Linked DNA regions of Homo sapiens: region 1 is linked to region 2. The links come from fine-mapping of genetic effects on gene expression. A gene starts in region 2. The other region holds a variant in brackets. All regions are shown on one strand. Distances are between the middles of the regions. Region 1 overlaps VSIG10 (V-set and immunoglobulin domain containing 10). Region 2 holds the start of VSIG10 (V-set and immunoglobulin domain containing 10).

Region 1 (8,274 bases), 36 kb after region 2:
ATTTTATTTTTTATACAGATGAGGTCGCACTGTGTTGACCAGGTTGGTCTTGAACTCCTGGCCTGAAGTGAGCCTCCCATCTCAGCCTCCCAAAGTGTTGAGATTGCAAGCATGAGCCACCACACCTGGCCTCTTTCTTCCCTTCCCTTCTCCCTTTTCCTTTCTCTTCTCCCTTTTCCCTTTCCTACCTTCCTTCTTTTCTTTCCCTCCCCTCCCCTCCTCTTTCTTTCTTTTTTTTTTTTGAGACGGAGTCTTGCTCTGTCACCCAGGCTGGAGTGCAGTGGTGCGATCTCGGCTCACTGCAAGCTCCACCTCCTGGGTTCATGCCATTCTCCTGCCTCAGCCTCCCAAGTAGCTGGGACTGCAGGCGCCCGCCGCTGTGCCCGGCTAATTTTTTGTATTTTTAGTAGAGATGGGGTTTCACTGTGTTAGCCAGGATGGTCTCGACCTCCTGACCTCGTGATCCGCCTGCCTCGGCCTCCCAAAGTGCTGGGATTACAGGCGTGAGCCACCGCGCCCGGCCCTCTTTCTTTCTTTGAGATGGAATTTCGCTCTTGTTGCCCAGGCTGGAGTGCAATGGCGCGATCTTGGCTCACCGCAACCCCCGCCTCCCGGGTTCAAGTGATTCTCCTGCCTCAGCCTCCCAAGTAGCTGGGATTACAGACATGCACCACCACACCTGGCTAATTTTGTATTTTTAGTAGAGACGGGGTTTTAACATGTTGGTCAGGCTGGTCTCGATCTCCCGACTTCAGGTGATCCGCCCTCCTCAGCCTCCCAAAGTGCTGGGATTACAGGCATGCGCCACTGCGCCCGGGCTCTAGTACCAATTCTTAAATAGTGCTTCCTTTGCTCAAGACCCTGTCATATATCAATTATACTTACGTGTGGACCCGTTCCTGGACTCTCTGTTCTGTTCCGTTGATCACTCTGTTTATCATGGCATTGATAACTCTCAACACTCTTACTTACCATGGCCTTAGAAATAGTCTCAGTGTTTGGTAGACAGAGAGATTTTAACTTTCCATTGTTTGTTCACATTCCCTGCTCCATCTGATCCCCACAAACTCTCTGAGGTTGGGTGATAAAATATTTATCTGGCATTACAGACAGGTCATAAGCCTTACCCAAGGTCAGGAATCAAGACAAGAACTGGATCCACGCAGAGAAAGGGAGGTGTTGTTCTAATTGCACACATATCTGATGGAAGAATCAATGGTGTGATTTGTCTTTACAGAACCTTTAAATATCGGGGGGATTGTGGGAACCATTGTGAGCCTCCTTCTGCTGGGACTGGCCATTATCTCAGGGCTTCTGTTGCATTATAGCCCTGTGTTCTGCTGGAAAGGTAAGGACTCCCTGGGTCCTTTAGCTTCTCTTCCAGACTTTTGAAAAGGTGCGGGATGGGGAAGGATGGCCCCTGCCTTGCTCCCACCTGAAGTTCTGTTCTCTGGGCTTCTTTGCTGGGTCAAGATACACAGTAATAAGTCACCTAAGTACCATCCCGGGACACCCTATCACCTGTCATATTGAGTCAGTTTTCTTATTTGTTCCTCTAGTAAATGTTTGCCTGATTAAGAACCTGTCAGGTTGAAGTGGATGTTACTGGATATTAATGGTTTTTCCTTTCTCTCTTCAGTAGGAAACACTTCCAGGTGAGTGTTCCCTAGAATCAAACCAAACACCCATTCCCGCATCTGTCTTCACTTCTGTTTTGTTCCCTTCCTTTCACAAGAACAATAATAGCAACTACCATTGAGGACCTACGATGTGCTAGACACTGGCCTAGGGATTTCATCAGGTATTCTTATAAACCCTTTCATCATCTCCTCAGGGTGGTGGTGACATCTCCATTTTCCAGATAAGGGGATGGAGGCTCAGTGAAGTAATTTCTGCAAGCTCATTCCAGAAGAAAGCAGCAGTGCCTTCCTTCAGGTCCAGGTCTAATCAATTCCAAAGTCTGTGTTCTTTTACAGCGCCAAACCTCAGGGCTGGACACATTGCAGGTCTGTCATTGAGACAGAAAGACAATGTGTACATTTTGAGCCAGTCATTCATGCATTTGTTTTATTTAATTTTCTAAAAAGAGCTAAAAGAAAGAATCAGTCATAGTCTTAAGTTTTTTTTTCTTTTTCTTTTTTCTTTTTTTTTTTTTTTTTGAGACAGAATCTCTCTCTCTTGCTCAGGCTGGAGTGCAGTGGTGCAGTCTCAGCTCACTGCAATCCCTACCTCCCAGGTTGAGGCCATTCTCCTGCCTCAGCCTTCCGAGTAGTTGGGATTACAGGTGCGCACCATCAAGCCTGGCTAATTTTTGTATTTTTAGTAGAGACAGGGTTTCACCATGTTGCCCAGGCTAGTCTCAAACTCCTGGCCTCAAGTGGTCTGCCCGCCTCGGCCTCCCAAAGTGCCGGGATTACAGGCACGAGCCACTGCACCCAGCCAGTTTTACAGTGTTTTGGAAGACTACTATGAGCATGCCCAGAACCCCCTCCCAAAAGGAAACCCCAGTAGGGGCGAAGGAACCAAACGGAACTTGTGTATTTCATTTCCTAAGGAGATTCTGGGTGGGAGCAGAGTACTCTTCTCTATGATCCTATGGAAAAACAGTTCTTTACCTCTTCAAAATGACAGGATATTATTGACCTGGGACCATCTTTCGTAGCAAAACATTACCTTTACTGCCCTGTATTGGAGGGCCATTCTTAGTAAGTCTGTCATTCCCTGGGCTTATTTCTCACTGGAGGCATCAGTGTGGTGTAGTAGGAAAAGGCACTGAGACCATTGGACCTGGGTTCAAATGACAGCTGTGCCATTCCCAAGCCCTGTACCCATAGAAAATCCCTGACCCTTTCTGAGCCTTAGTCTCCTGATTTGTTTCACCAGGGGGTTTGTGAAGATTAAATGACAATGTAACACAGCTCCTCGGGCAGGTGACTGACCTGTGGCGTTCATTCTTCTTCCTTAAGAAATGCATAGTCCAGGCCGGGTGCAGTGGCTCACGCCTGTAATCCCAGCACTTTGGGAGGCCGAGGCGGGTGGATCACCTGAGGTCGGGAGTTCGAGACCAGCCTGACCAACATGCAGAAACCCCATCTCTACTAAAAATACAAAAAATTAGCCGCATGTAGTGGCGCATGCCTGTAATCCCAGCTGCTTGGGAGGTTGAAGCAGGAGAATTGCTTGAACCTGGGAGGCAGAGGTTGCGGTGAGCCATGATTGTGCCATTGCACTCCAGCCTGGGCAACAAGAATGAAACTCTGTCTCAAAAAAAAAAAAAAAAAGAAGAAGAAGAAGAAGAAGAAATGCACAGTCCAGGCCGGGCACAACAGTGGCTCATGCCTATAATCTCAGCACTCTGGGAGGCCAAGGTGGTTGGATCACTTGAGGCCAGGCATTCGAGACCAGCCTGGCCAACATGTTGAAACCATGTCTCTACTAAAAATACAAAAATTAGCCAGATGTGGTGGCGCATGCCTGTAGTCCCAGCTACTTGGGTGGCTGAGGCAGGAGAATTGCTTGCACCCAG[G/A]AGGTGGAGGTTGCAGTGAGCCAAGATTGCGCCACTGCACTCTAGCCTGGGCAACAGCGCAAGACTCTATCCCGAAAAAGAAAAAAAAAAGAAATGTATAGTCTGAAATGCAAAGTCTGGCTGGGTAGGCAAGCTAGTGAGCTGGTGATAAATAAACTATAGCATGGACTCTAAATGCAGTCATTAATTTAGGTCTTTAGCAGGAGGGAGAGGACTTTACCTGGGTCTTCCAAAATGAGGAAGGGGAGAGATTTTGGTAAGTAGAGCAGAATGAGGGCATTTCAGAAAAGGAAAAACATTTGTCTACCTGCTGTAAGGGGACATGAAATGGTAGATGCCTGGGACAATATGGTCACCTGCCCAAGGAGCAGGGGAGTAATAAACCAGCATGAGATACCATCATCTGAAGCAATTTGTGGCAGCATCTCTGCGGTTACCACACCATCACCTCATTACTTCACCAAGCTGTAATTTTCCATATTACTAATGGGGTTGCAAAGAATCTAGTGTTTCCTATTCAGTGAGGGCTGAAGTTGGGAAAAATAAGAAATCTTCTTGATTATTTTTCCCCTTTGGAAATTAGGGGACAAAACATGGATGATGTCATGGTTTTGGTGGATTCAGAAGAGGAAGAGGAGGAGGAGGAGGAGGAGGAGGAAGATGCTGCAGTAGGGGAACAGGAGGGAGCACGTGAGAGAGAGGAGTTGCCAAAAGAAATACCTAAGCAGGACCACATTCACAGAGTGACCGCCTTGGTGAATGGGAACATAGAACAGATGGGAAATGGATTCCAGGATCTTCAAGGTAAGCTCTTTTTCCTTAAACAAACAAACAGAAAACAAACAAAAAAAGGCGCGTTGGCTCACGCCTATAATCCCAGCACTTTGGGAGGCCAAGGTGGGAAGATCACTTAAGCCCAGAAGTTCAAGACTAGCCTGGGCAACATGGTGAGACTCTGTCTCTACGAAAAAAAAAAAAAAAAAAAAGAAAAATTAGCCGGTCATGGTGGTGTGCACCTGTGTTCCCAGCTACTTGGGAGGCTGAGGATCACTTGAGTGTAGGAAGTCCAGGCTGCAGTGAGCTATGATCACACCACTGCACTCCAGTCTGGGCAGCAGTAGGAAACCTGCCTCAGAAAAAAAAAAAAAAAAAAAAAAGCCCACAAACCTCTGAACTGCTGCGGTGAGCTTCCCAGCAGGAAATCTCTAAGGGGTGAGTTTAGTTTTTTTAAAAGGCTGGGGAAGATAGCTAAACTTTAGTCTAGAACCTGAGACTACTATCAACTACCAACATGAAAATCAAATTGACAAACACTTATCAAGGTCCTGGTCTAGGGTAGGCACAATATTGGCATTGTGGGAGAACAGAAAATAGAGACTGGTAGTGTCTGCATGCAGGGAGCTTTACAAGACCAGTTCAGGCCAGGTGCGGTGGCTCACGCCTATAATCCCAGCATTTTGGGAGGCTGAGGCAGGTGGATCATTTGAGGTCAGGAGTTTGAGACCAGCCTGGCCAACATGGTGAGACCCCCATCTCTACTAAAAATACAAAAATCAGCTGGGTGTGGTAGGTGCCTGTAATCCCAGCTACTTGGGAGACCAAGGCAGGAGAATCACTTGAACCCGGGAGACGGAGGCTGCAGTGAGCCGAGATCGTGCCACTGCACTTCAGCCTGGGTGACAGAGTGAGACTCTGTCTCAAAAAAAAAAAAAAAAAGGCCAGTTTAGGGGAACAAACTAAAACCTGCAGGGGAAATGGAAACAGGAGCAAGATTGAACCAACACACTGAGAGAGCAGTAGAGGAGCTGTTGCAGGAAGATATTTGATTAATTGCCTGATGGACAACACATTTAAAAATTATAGGCACGGTTGCTCATGCCTGTAATCCCAGCACTTTGGGAGGCCAAAGTGGGTGGATCGCTGGAGCTCAGGAGTTCGAGACTAGCCTTGGGAACATGGCAAAACGTGTCTCTACTAAGAATACAAAAAATTAGCTGGGTGTGTGGCATGTACCTGTAGCCCCAGCTACTTGGGAGGCTGAGGTGGGAGAATCACCTGAGCCTGGGAAGTTGAGGCTGCAGTGAGATGAGATCGTGCCACTGCACCAAAATTTATAGGACCTCAGAGAAAGATAAGAGCCCGGAGAGGTGTGCTGGTCAGGGGAAGCTTTATGGAAGAGGTAGACATGAAGCAAGGCGTTAAGACGGCTGAGTTGGAATAAGCAGAAAGGAGAGAGGGCGTTTCAGGTGAGGGGAGGGGCGTGAGCTGAGGACATGAAGGGTGACTGGTATCAAGCATGCCTAGAGGTTCTGAATGTAGAAAACAGGTGAAAAGGGGAAAACACACGCTGCCCTACCTTCTCCATGAGATCCCATTCTGTGGCTCACCAGGAAAGGACTAGAAATCACTGAGATGATTGATGACTGACGGTGGAAATAGAATCACACTCTGATTACAAAGCATTGGGTTTATTTCCCCCCATACAGATGACAGCAGTGAGGAGCAAAGTGACATTGTTCAAGAAGAAGACAGGCCAGTCTGAAGAAGAGGATGGTCCATGGTTGTCTTGCTCTGAAAGCTTGGAGAGCTACATTGAAGACGAGCTCTTCATTCAGCTTTGACTCCACCTGCACCCCTGGCGGGGGCTTGCACTAACAATGTTTGGGTCTCAGCAAAAAACAAAACCAAGCACACACATCTTTCCTTCCATGTATTGAAAAACATTGGTTTGATTTGCTCTAAGTTTTCCCAATGATGTTTAAAAGCTTTGAGAAGGAAAGCTGCTTTGGTGTCTGAGGTGCCACTTCTGCTGTGAATCCTGGCTTTATCCAGGTTGATCTACTGTGATAGATGCTGATTTAGAGGGAACAGAGGTCAGGGAAGCACTGGGTCTTGGTGCCTTTTGCCGCTTTTTTTTTTTTTTTTTTTTTTTTTTGAGACGGAGTCTCCCTCTATTGCCCAGGCTGGAGTGCAATGGCACGATCTTGGCTCACCACAACTTCTGCCTCCCAGGTTCAAGCGATTCTCCTGCCTCAGCCACGGCACCTTGCAAATATCAGCTCCTTGGAACAGGTGAAGTTCCAGGTACCAATGCCAATCAGAGGAAGGCAGTTTGGTTCAGGCTTTGGAGTTAGAAACACCTGAAGTTGAATCTGGGCTCTGTTGCTTCCTTCTTTCATGGGCTAGAGCACGACTCTTTACCTCTCTCTTGGCCTCAATTTCCTCACCTGTAAAATAGATGAGGAAGCTGCTCACTTATTATTGTCTCGTTCTGAAAGCTTGGAAAGCTACATCGAAGATGAGCTCTTCATTCAGCTTTGATTTGACCTGTACCCCTGGTGGGGGATTGCACTGGCAACATTTGGGTCTCAGCAAAAAAACCAAGCACACACATCTTTCCTTCCATTTATTGAAAAACATCTTTGTAAGATCCATTCATTGAAAAACATAATCCATTTATTGAAAAATATCTTTGTAAGATCACCTGCTAAATATGAAAATCTGACTTGAATTTGTACTCTTTAAAGTTGCGTATCTGCTCTAGTGGGCAGGACCTAGGGCTTAAAGGGGAACTTCCTTTCTCCATTTCTAAGAACTGGGACTCTAAAATGAGAAGCTGGTTGTCTGAAGTAACCCTGCAGGTGTGGTTGGGGAAGGTCTGTTTTCTTGGATGAAGGAACTAAACTAAGCATATCAGAGCACTGTCTTAACCAGTTTTATTTCCCTGGAGATAGAATTCTTTTAAAAAGAGTTAGGGAGCTGGTAATAGGAAGTGCCTTTCATTATAACTACATTTTGCAGAGCTTCATATTTATATACAAGCCTCCTAGGTGATACACTGTTAGCTTGCAGACTTTCCTATGCTTCATTTCTCCTGTTGCTTTCAAAGAAGGCAGGAGACACGTTTAATAACGGAGTATCTGGTGATAAGAATTGCTTGGGCAAACCAGCTCATCTGGACTCTTTCTCAGTCTTGGAAGTGGGAAGAGGAAAACTTGTTTCCTTCCTGCTTCTTAAGGATATTCTGAGGGTACACTGATCAATAACACTAAATTTGGAATGAAAATACCATGTGATGAGTTTAGCCTGCTGATGCTTCCAGTAGATCCTTGTATAGTTTCAAGATTTAAGTTTTCCGATTTCATATAAATTTCTTAAAGTCGAGGACCTTATAAGGGTGCAATGGATGTTTGCTAAATATGAAAAACTGACTTGAATTTGCACTCTTTAATGTTGCGTATCTGCTCTAGTGGGCAGGACCTAGGGCTTAAAGGGGAACTTCCTTTCTCCAATTCTAGGAACTGGGACTCTAAAATGAGAAGCTGGTTGTCTGAAGTAACCCTGCAGGTGTGGTTGGGGAAGGTCTGTTTTCTTGGATGAAGGGATTAAACTGAGCAAATCACTAGAAGTATGCCCTGTCCCCTGCTCAGAACACTGGGGAGCTCAAGAGTGGGCTGCAATGTGCACCCCTCAGGAATAGCTGTGAATTGCAGGTCTACTGGCTTTTTGCTTTTTGTCTTTTGCTGCAAGGTACCCCACGTACTTAACCATTCTCAACAGTGTAAATCAGTGTCATTTTAGAATGAGATACTCAGCTTGCTTCTAAAGTCACTGAATTACTGAGTGAGTCTCTCCTTTAGAGTCTTCGGCAACCAAATTCCAGAATTGAAGAGTCTACTACTCAGAGGCAACAAGATTAAAAAAAGAAAACACAAAAACTGTTGAGGTGAAAAAAAAAAAAAACCCTA
Region 2 (8,330 bases):
ATGCCTGGCTAAGTTAAAAAAATCTGTAGAGACAAGGTTTCACTATGTTGCTCAGGGTGATCTTGAACTCCTGAGCTCAAGTGATCCTCCAGCCTCAGCCTCCCAAAGTGCCAAGATTATGGGTGTGAGCTACTGCATCTGGCCCTGGCTAATTAAAAAAAAAATTTTTTTTTTTGAGACATGGGGGTCTTGCCATGTTGCCCCATGGTGGTCTCAAGCTCTTGGCCTCAAGAAGTCTTCCAGCCTAGGCCTCAAAGCCCAACCTAGTTTATCTTTACAACATCCCATGAGATAAATATTAGGTCTATTTTGCTGATAGGGAAACTTGGGCTCTAAAAGGACCCTACATTGCTGGGGACCCCATGCAAAACTCCCAACTCACTGAACATTGTTCTAGGCAGGGTACTTTCTACTGTCCAGAGTGACCTGAAATGCAAGTGGACATCAGGGCAGCTCCTTACACAGCTTCTGACTCAGGGCTGGCTTGAGCCCCTGCAGTCAAAACAAAGAGGGTGGTGTTTTCCAGGCCAGCTCTGCTCAGGTGAAGGCTGGTGTCTGATCATCCAGTGACACACAGAGCATTCAGATGCATGTCCCCTTAGCCCTGGCAGCCTTTGCACATGTGACAAATGTGCAACTTTGTGGGGCTGGAGTTGCAGTCACACAGTCAGTCGTGGCTTTACCACCAGCCAGCCGGCTGTGTGACTCAGAGTTAACCTCCCAGAGCTGTAGGTTGCTCACTTATAAAACTGGATGGCCGGCCAGGCGTGGTGGCTCACGCCTGTAATCCCAGCATTTTGGGAGGCTGAGGCAGGCAGATCACTTGAGGTCAGGAGTTCAAGACCAATCTGGCCAACAAGGTGAAACCCCATCTCTTCTAAAAATACAAAAATTAGCCAGGTGTGGTGGCGTGAACCTGTAATCCCAGCTACTTGGGAGACGGAGGCAGGAGAATGGCTTGAACCCAGGAGGCGGAGGCTGCAGTGAGCGGAAATCATGCCACTGCACTCCAGCCTGGGGGACAGAGCAAGACTCCATCTCAAAAATAAATAAATAAAACCGATGGTATGTGGCACTGCACCTTAGGTCCAAGGGTTGCAGGGAGGGTCCAGTGAGATTAGAACTATGCATCGACCTCGCCAATATGTCAGGAAGGCCGCCCTGGGCAAGCCACCATGAGGCCATGGAGAATTCCAGGCCCTCTGCTGAAAACTGGCCAGTTATTGGTTTTATTTTTTTAATTAAAAATATTTATTTATTTATTTATTTATTTATTTATTTATTTATTTATTTTGAGCAGTGTCTCTCTGTGTTGTCCAGGCTGGAGTGCAGTGGCACAATCTCAGCTCACTACAACCTCCACCTCCCAGGTTCCAGCAACCCTCCTGCCTCAGCCTTTCAAGTAGCTGGGATTACGAGCATGCGCCACCATGCCCAGCTAATTTTTTATTTTTAGTAGAGATGGGGTTTCACTGTGTTGGCTAGGCTGGTCTCGAACTCCTGACCTCAAGGGATCTGCCCACCTTGGCTTTCCTGAGTGCTGGGATTATAGGCATGAGCCACCTTGCCTGGCCCAGTTACTGATTTTATTTACCGCTTGTTTATTGCAGGTGAGGATGTAAGGTGTTTGCCAGAAAAGCTGAGGAACTACAATATCAAAACTAATCAATTCTCATTTGTTTACTCAACAAATGTATATTAGAATGGCAACTAGCTGGCAGGTACTGAGGATACAGGAAACAGGTCTGGTTAGTATAGGATCTCCACAAGGTCAAACATGAAAAGCAAGAACCAAGTTGGGTGCAGTGGCTCATGCCTGTAATTCCAGCACTCTGGGAGGATTGACTTAAGCCTAGGAGGTTGAGGCTGCAGTGAGGTATGATTACACCACTGCACTTCAGCCTGGATGATATAGGGAGACTCTGTCTAAAAAAAAAAAAAAAAAAAAATTCCAGGCCGGGTGTGGTGGCTCACGCGTGTAATCCCAGCACTTTGGGAAGCCGAGGCAGGTGGATCACGAGGTCAGGAGATCGAGACCATCCTGGCTAACTGAAGGGGTGGGTTGCCCCTCCACACCTGTGGGTGTTTCTCGTAAGGTGGAACGAGAGACTTGGAAAAGAAAAAGACACAGAGACAAAGTATAGAGAAAGAAATAAGGGGACCCGGGGAACCAGCGTTCAGCATATGGAGGATCCCGCCAGCCTCTGAGTTCCCTTAGTATTTATTGATCATTCGTGGGTGTTTCTCCGAGAGGGGGATGTGTCAGGGTCACAAGACAATTGTGGGGAGAGGGTCAGCAGACAAACACGTGAACAAAGGTCTATGCATCATAGACAAGGTAAAGGATTAAGTGCTGTGCTTTTAGATATGCATACACATAAACATCTCAATGCTTTACAAAGCAGTATTGCTGCCCGCAGGTCCCACCTCCAGCCCTAAGGCGGTTTTTCCCTATCTCAGTAGATGGAACGTACAATCGGGTTTTATACCGAGACATTCCATTGCCCAGGGAGGGGCAGGAGACAGATGCCTTCCTCTTGTCTCAACTGCAAGAGGCATGCCTTCCTCTTATATTAATCCTCCTCAGCACAGACCCTTTACGGGTGTCGGGCTGGGGGCAGTCAGGTCTTTCCCTTCCCACAAGGCCATATTTCAGACTATCACATGGGGAGAAACCTTGGACAATACCTGGCTTTCCTAGGCAGAGGTCCCTGCGGCCTTCCGCAGTGTTTGTGTCCCTGGGTACTTGAGATTAGGGAGTGGTGATGACTCTTAAGGAGCATGCTGCCTTCAAGCATCTGTTTAACAAAGCACATCTTGCACCGCCCTTAATCCATTTAACCCTGAGTTTGACACAGCACATGTTTCAGAGAGCACGGGGTTGGGGGTAAGGTCACAGAATCTCAAGGCAGAAGAATTTTTCTTAGTACATAACAAAATGGAGTCTCCCATGTCTACTTCTTTCTACACAGACACAGTAACAATCTGATCTCTCTTGCTTTTCCCCACACTAACACGGTGAAACCCCGTCTCCACTAAAAATACAAAAATTATCCGGGCGTGGTGGCAGGAGCCTGTAGTCCCAGCTACTTGGGAGGCTGAGGCAGGAGAATGGCATGAGCCTGGGAGGCGGAGCTTGCAGCGACAGAGCGAGACTCCGTCTCAAAAAACAAACAAACAAAATTCCTGTCAAGAATCTGATGAACAGTTATTTTATTTTATTTTTTATTTATTTATTTTTTTTGAGACGAAGTCTCGCTCTTCTCCCCAGGCTGGAGTGCAATGGCGCGATCTCGGCTCACTGCAACCTCCACCTCCTGGGTTCAAGCGATTCTCCTGCCTCAGCCTCCCAAGTAGCTGGGATTACAGGCGCCTGCCACCACACCGGGCTAATTTTTGTATTTTTAGTAGAGACGAAGTTTCACCATGTTGGCCAGGCTACTCTCGAACTCCTTACCTCAGGTGATCCACCTGCCTCGGCCTCCCAAAGTGCTGGGATTACAGGCATGAGCCAACGTGCCCGGCTGATGAACAGTTATTTAAAAATATTTGAGCAAAGAATAAAAAAGGGCTGAGCGCGGTGGCTCGCACCTGTAATCCCAACACTTTGGCAGGCCAAGGCGGGTGGATCACTTGAGGTCAGGAGTTCGAGACCAGCCTGGGTAACATGGAGAAACGCTGTCTTTACTAAAATTACAAAAATTAGCTGGGCGTGGTGCTGCACACCTGTAGTCCCAGCTACTCGGGAGGCTGAGGTGGGAGGATCACTTGAGCCTGGTAGTTTGAGGCTGCAGCGAGGTATGATTGTGCTACTGCACTCTAGCCTGGGCAACTGGAGTGACACCCTGTCTCAAAAAAATAAAAAACAGAAAAGTAAAAAAGGCAGAACTGTTCAGCTTCATTGCTCAGTTCACCAGGAGAAACATTTTTTTTTTAAAGTGGTTTCAAGAGGATTTCCTCATGGAAGAAGCATTTCAATAAGGGGACCGTTGAACAACAGAACTAATGATTTTTTTTTAACGTTAATATTTATTTTGAGATGGAGTCTCGCTCAGTCGCCCAGGCTGGAGTGCAATGGCGTGATATCGGCTCACTGCAACCTCCGCCTGCTGGGTTCAAGCGATTCTCCTGCCTCAGCCTACCCAGTAGCTGGGATTACAGGCGCCCGCCATCATGCCCGGCTAATTGTTGTATTTTTAGTAGAGACAGGGTTTCACCATGTTGGTCAGGCTGGTCTCGAACTCCTGACCTTGTGATCCGCCCACCTCGGCCTCCCAAAGTGCTGGGATTACAGGTGTGAGCCACCACGCCCTGCCATATTATTATTATTTGAAACAGGAAGTTTCTCCTAGGGCTGTTTTATGGATGGCTCTTCCTGAGGATATCAAAGCCGCATTTTCCCCAGGACAGAATGGGATGAGGGCATGGCAGGGAAGAGAGGAGCTTAGCCTGGGAATCTGACTGGGTAAGGGGTGGGAGAACTAAAAGGGGAAAAGCAAAAACAAAACTCTTGAGAAACACGTCCTGGGGACTCCTTGGCTCTCGCTGTCACTGTGTGGTCCCAGCCAGTTCACTGGAGAACCGGAGTCTCGTGGCTGCTTTGGCTGAAAGTCAGGGGATCATCTTTCTCTGGCTCCCTTTTGCAGAGGGTAAGGAAAGGAAGCGATGGCGGCCTTGGCGCCCGCCCTGCGCCCAGGGACACAGACCGGAATCCCTCGAGACGCTCAGCGGGGACTGCCAGGGGGGTCCTGCGTTCTGCAGCTTGGCAACCGCTTCCTCCGGGTTCTGCAGCCCGGGGCAGCGGCGGGGGTTGCGTCCTGCGGCAGCTGCAGGGCTCCGTCCCGCCCGCTGTCCCCGCGACTCGGTACTGCTGTCCCGGGCGGAGTGGACTGGGGAGGGCCCAGCCTCCGCGCCCCGCCCCTGGCCCGGCGGGACCCGGCTCGGCGCGCCCTCGGCAGAAAGCCCTCCTCCCGGGCCAAGGTAGAGGAAGTTGGGCTCCCGCCTGGCTGGGAGGCGGGAGGGATCCCGCTCCTGTTGTTTTCCGCCGGCAGGAGTAGGCTGGCGGGCGCAGGGGGCGGGGTGCGCCCTCCCTCCCCGGCCAGGGCGCTCGGGAGCGGGGACCCGAGCCTGCAGCCGAGCTCCGCTGCCGGCCCTGGACACTCGGCTCAGCCAAGCATCCTTCCTGGGGGCCGAGGAAGTGGGGCCACTCTGCCGTTCCGAGGACCTGGGAGGAGCCCTCGGTACCCCGGGCCCCGGGGCCCTGGGGCACACACGTCCAGCCCAGCCCGAGCCTGCGTTTCCTGAGCCGGGATCTGGGGCGAGATGGCCGCAGGCGGCAGTGCGCCCGAGCCCCGCGTCCTCGTCTGCCTCGGGGCGCTCCTGGCCGGCTGGGTCGCCGTAGGTAAGGGGCCGCGATCTGGAGGGAAAAGTTGAGTTTTCCCAGTCAGCGGTGGGGAGGGGACAGCGAGAGACCCAATTCCCTCCGACTCCGCCCGGATCCGTGGTGGCCCCAGCCTAGAAGCTGCCCCAGGAGGGTCTTGGTTTCCTGCTCGCAGCTCGGCCGTCTTTGCAGGAAGGAGTTTTCCCGGGCGCCCGGTGCGGGGCGAGATACCCCCAGCCTCCTGGGGTGGGCAGCCGGTGAGGCTGCAGAGGAGCCGAGCCGAGCCGACGTGCGGGGGCAAAGTAAAGAGGCACGTGTGCCGGGAAAGTGATTTTTTTTTTTAAGCGTCGGATGTAAATTCGCGTTCTGGTTTTAGTAGTAACTGATACGCTGGTGCTCAAACTCGAGACTCCCACTTTATTTTTCTCCTCCCTCTGCCCAAGGTTGAACTCGCCTTACACCTGTAACCGGTGGACTTCCCTACACACCTTTGCAAGTCTTCCTGTGCCGACCAGCGCCTTCAAAGCGGGGTCTTCCGCCTTTACTTTTGGAAAAGCTTTTTATTTTGAAATACTTGGCTGACTTACAAAAGACTTCCCCTCACACTTGACATGATTGACAAAAGGTCTGAAATGCTTCATCTATGGTCTGCTTTGCTACGAAAAAAGAATTGGAGGGGTGCTTACAAAAATATGTAGAATGTAAAAAGATTGAACTATTTATATATATTTGAATTTAATTCACCAGCATGCCTACTGTGCATGCCTACTGTGTGCTGGGAGTGTGACAAGCTGGGAGGAGGCTGGGGTGCAGGGAGAGGAGATGGAGCCAGGAGGTGGTGAAGTTTGCCAGGATGCAGGCAGAGCGCTACTTTTTGTGTTCCCGGGTCTGCTCCACCCAACGGGTCTCCTCTTGCACGTTTCTGGAGATGGGTTGTAAAGTATGCTGGAGCTTCTTAGCAGCAAGTGCCAAGAGTTCCTAATTATTAGGCTCATACAATTTTATTTTGCTTTTTTTTTTTTAACCAACCATTTAAAAACAATAACATCTCTAGATTTCCAGTTTATCTGGAAAAATCTGAAGGTCTGGCAACACGGGGCCTGCTTTCCCAGTTGGAATTGGGCAGTGGTCATCCTCTTATCTAGGGCATATGAGCCCAAATTTGTTCCACCTCTCCCTGTTGTAATATTTGCCCCGCCACCTTCAGTCATGGGTGTTACCTGCTGGCCCTGCAGGCATTTGGCTGAGTAATCACTGTGCTGGGGTGTGGGTGATGGGGGAGGACAGTTCCTAGTTGGTCATCTCTGGACGTGAAAGGTGGTTGTCAAGTATTCCCATCTCCCCAGCTGTTTGCAGTGTTTCCTGCACGATGAACACCAGGAACCTGGGAAGTGAGAAGAACCCTGGGATGAAGTCATCCTGCTGGAATGACCTGGCTTTCAGGCTGACTGCCACCCGCCCCATGGGGAACCTATCTCCACTGCTATGGCCAGCTATTTTTTTCGAGCCAGGCTCTCGCTCTGTTGCCCAGGCTGGAGTGCAGTGGTGCAATCACTGCACTGATCCTCCCACCTCAGCCTACAAGTAGCTGGGACTACAGGCGTGCACCACCACGCCTAGCTAATTTCTAAAATTTTTTTGTAGAGACGGTCTCTACAATCGCTTGAGCCCAGGCTGGTCTTAAACTCCTGGACCCAAGCGATCCTCCTGTCTCGGCCTCCCAAAGTGTTGGGATTATGGGTGTGAGCCACCGTGTTGGGCCTTTGCCCAGCTATTTTGATGCCCAGACCTGCTTCACCTTTGTGTATGATGCCAGGGGGCTTCCTGAGCTTGGTGTATTTTTGTTGTGTGTTTGTTTTTTAAGTTGGGAGTTTTTGGGGAAAAAAATTTTTCTCCTGACATTCAATGCCAGACAACTTATATGCATCCACTAGCTACCCCGGATTGTAAATCCTAGGTTATTCTTGGGAAAAGTTGCTTTAAAAAAATAAATAAATGTTTGGGTATAACTCCTACTCTGTAAATAATAATACATGGGCAGCATCAGGGAGTTTATATTACTCCCTCTTCGGTTCTCTATTGTACATTTAAGGTTGGGGGGCAAGAAGGACCCTCTGGACACCATATGAATGACTTCTAAACTTGTTACTATATTTTATCATTGCATCCTGTCTGGTGCAGGAGACCAGAGTAACGTGACCTGAGTGACAATCCCACATCTCCCAGTGATTTGCTTGGGACTTTAAGTGATAACTTAATCTTCCTAAATCTCAATTTTCTCAGTAGTAAAGTGAGGAGGTTTAGGACTGCCAGGCAAGAACTACCCCTTCCATGTCTATGTCAGACATCACTAAATCGATGACTGTGTTCTTTTCCACTGAACCAGGACTCAATCTCATCTTCAACCCAGCCCACAGGGCAGCCACATCTCTGGACTAGATGATCTCCAAGGGCACCTTCAGATACAGTGGTTTAAAAAAGAACGGAGTAAGCCAAACCAGGAGAAGTGAAATGTCTTCAAATGGTTTCTTTTGTGATCATGTCATTCTATGCCTTGGAGGAGAAAACAATGTTAGCTCAAGTTCCAAGACTAAAGTTTCACCACGGCTTTTTTCCAAGCCACTGTTCCTTTATTTCTTTGCCAAGGAGTTAGGCAAGGGGCAGGTCTGCAGGTTGCATGAACACATGTTGCATCTGTAACTCTGAAGTTCATCTTCCTTTCCATTGTGGCGGTTGCCACTGGATAATTTGGGTTCCCAATCCTAATAATTTAAAAATAATTCTTGGCTGGGTGCGGTGGCTCCCGCCTGTAATCCCAGCACTTTTGGAGGCCGAAGTGGGCAGATCACCTGAGGTCAGGAGTTCAAGACCAGCCTGGCCAACACAGTGAAACCCTGTCTCTACAAAAATACAAAAACTTAGCGGGGCATGATGGCGGGTGCCTGTAATC

What was found. PIP is the estimated chance that this variant, and not a neighbour inherited with it, causes the effect.
Region 1: its variant is fine-mapped to the expression of VSIG10 in whole blood (INTERVAL, PIP above 0.99).

Annotation. Positions count from the first base shown.
Region 1 is chr12:118,064,433-118,072,706 of GRCh38, reverse strand. It overlaps VSIG10 (V-set and immunoglobulin domain containing 10), which reads left to right. Exons shown (of 9, transcript NM_019086.6): 6 at 1,238-1,348; 7 at 1,640-1,655; 8 at 4,110-4,330; 9 at 6,013-8,274. The coding sequence ends at 6,068. The region is part of intron 1 of LOC124903030 (a long non-coding RNA gene); the gene reads right to left. Among named protein-coding and RNA genes, the nearest start is that of WSB2, 7.4 kb to the right of the region's middle. The variant G/A (reference allele first, on the strand shown) is at 3,527.
Region 2 is chr12:118,100,664-118,108,993 of GRCh38, reverse strand. It overlaps VSIG10 (V-set and immunoglobulin domain containing 10), which reads left to right and starts at 4,983. Exons shown (of 9, transcript NM_019086.6): 1 at 4,983-5,401. The coding sequence starts at 5,323. It overlaps LOC124903029 (a long non-coding RNA gene), which reads left to right and starts at 5,412. Exons shown (of 2, transcript XR_007063478.1): 1 at 5,412-6,005; 2 at 6,727-7,389. RefSeq lists an enhancer at 2,533-3,248 and a silencer at 4,890-5,139.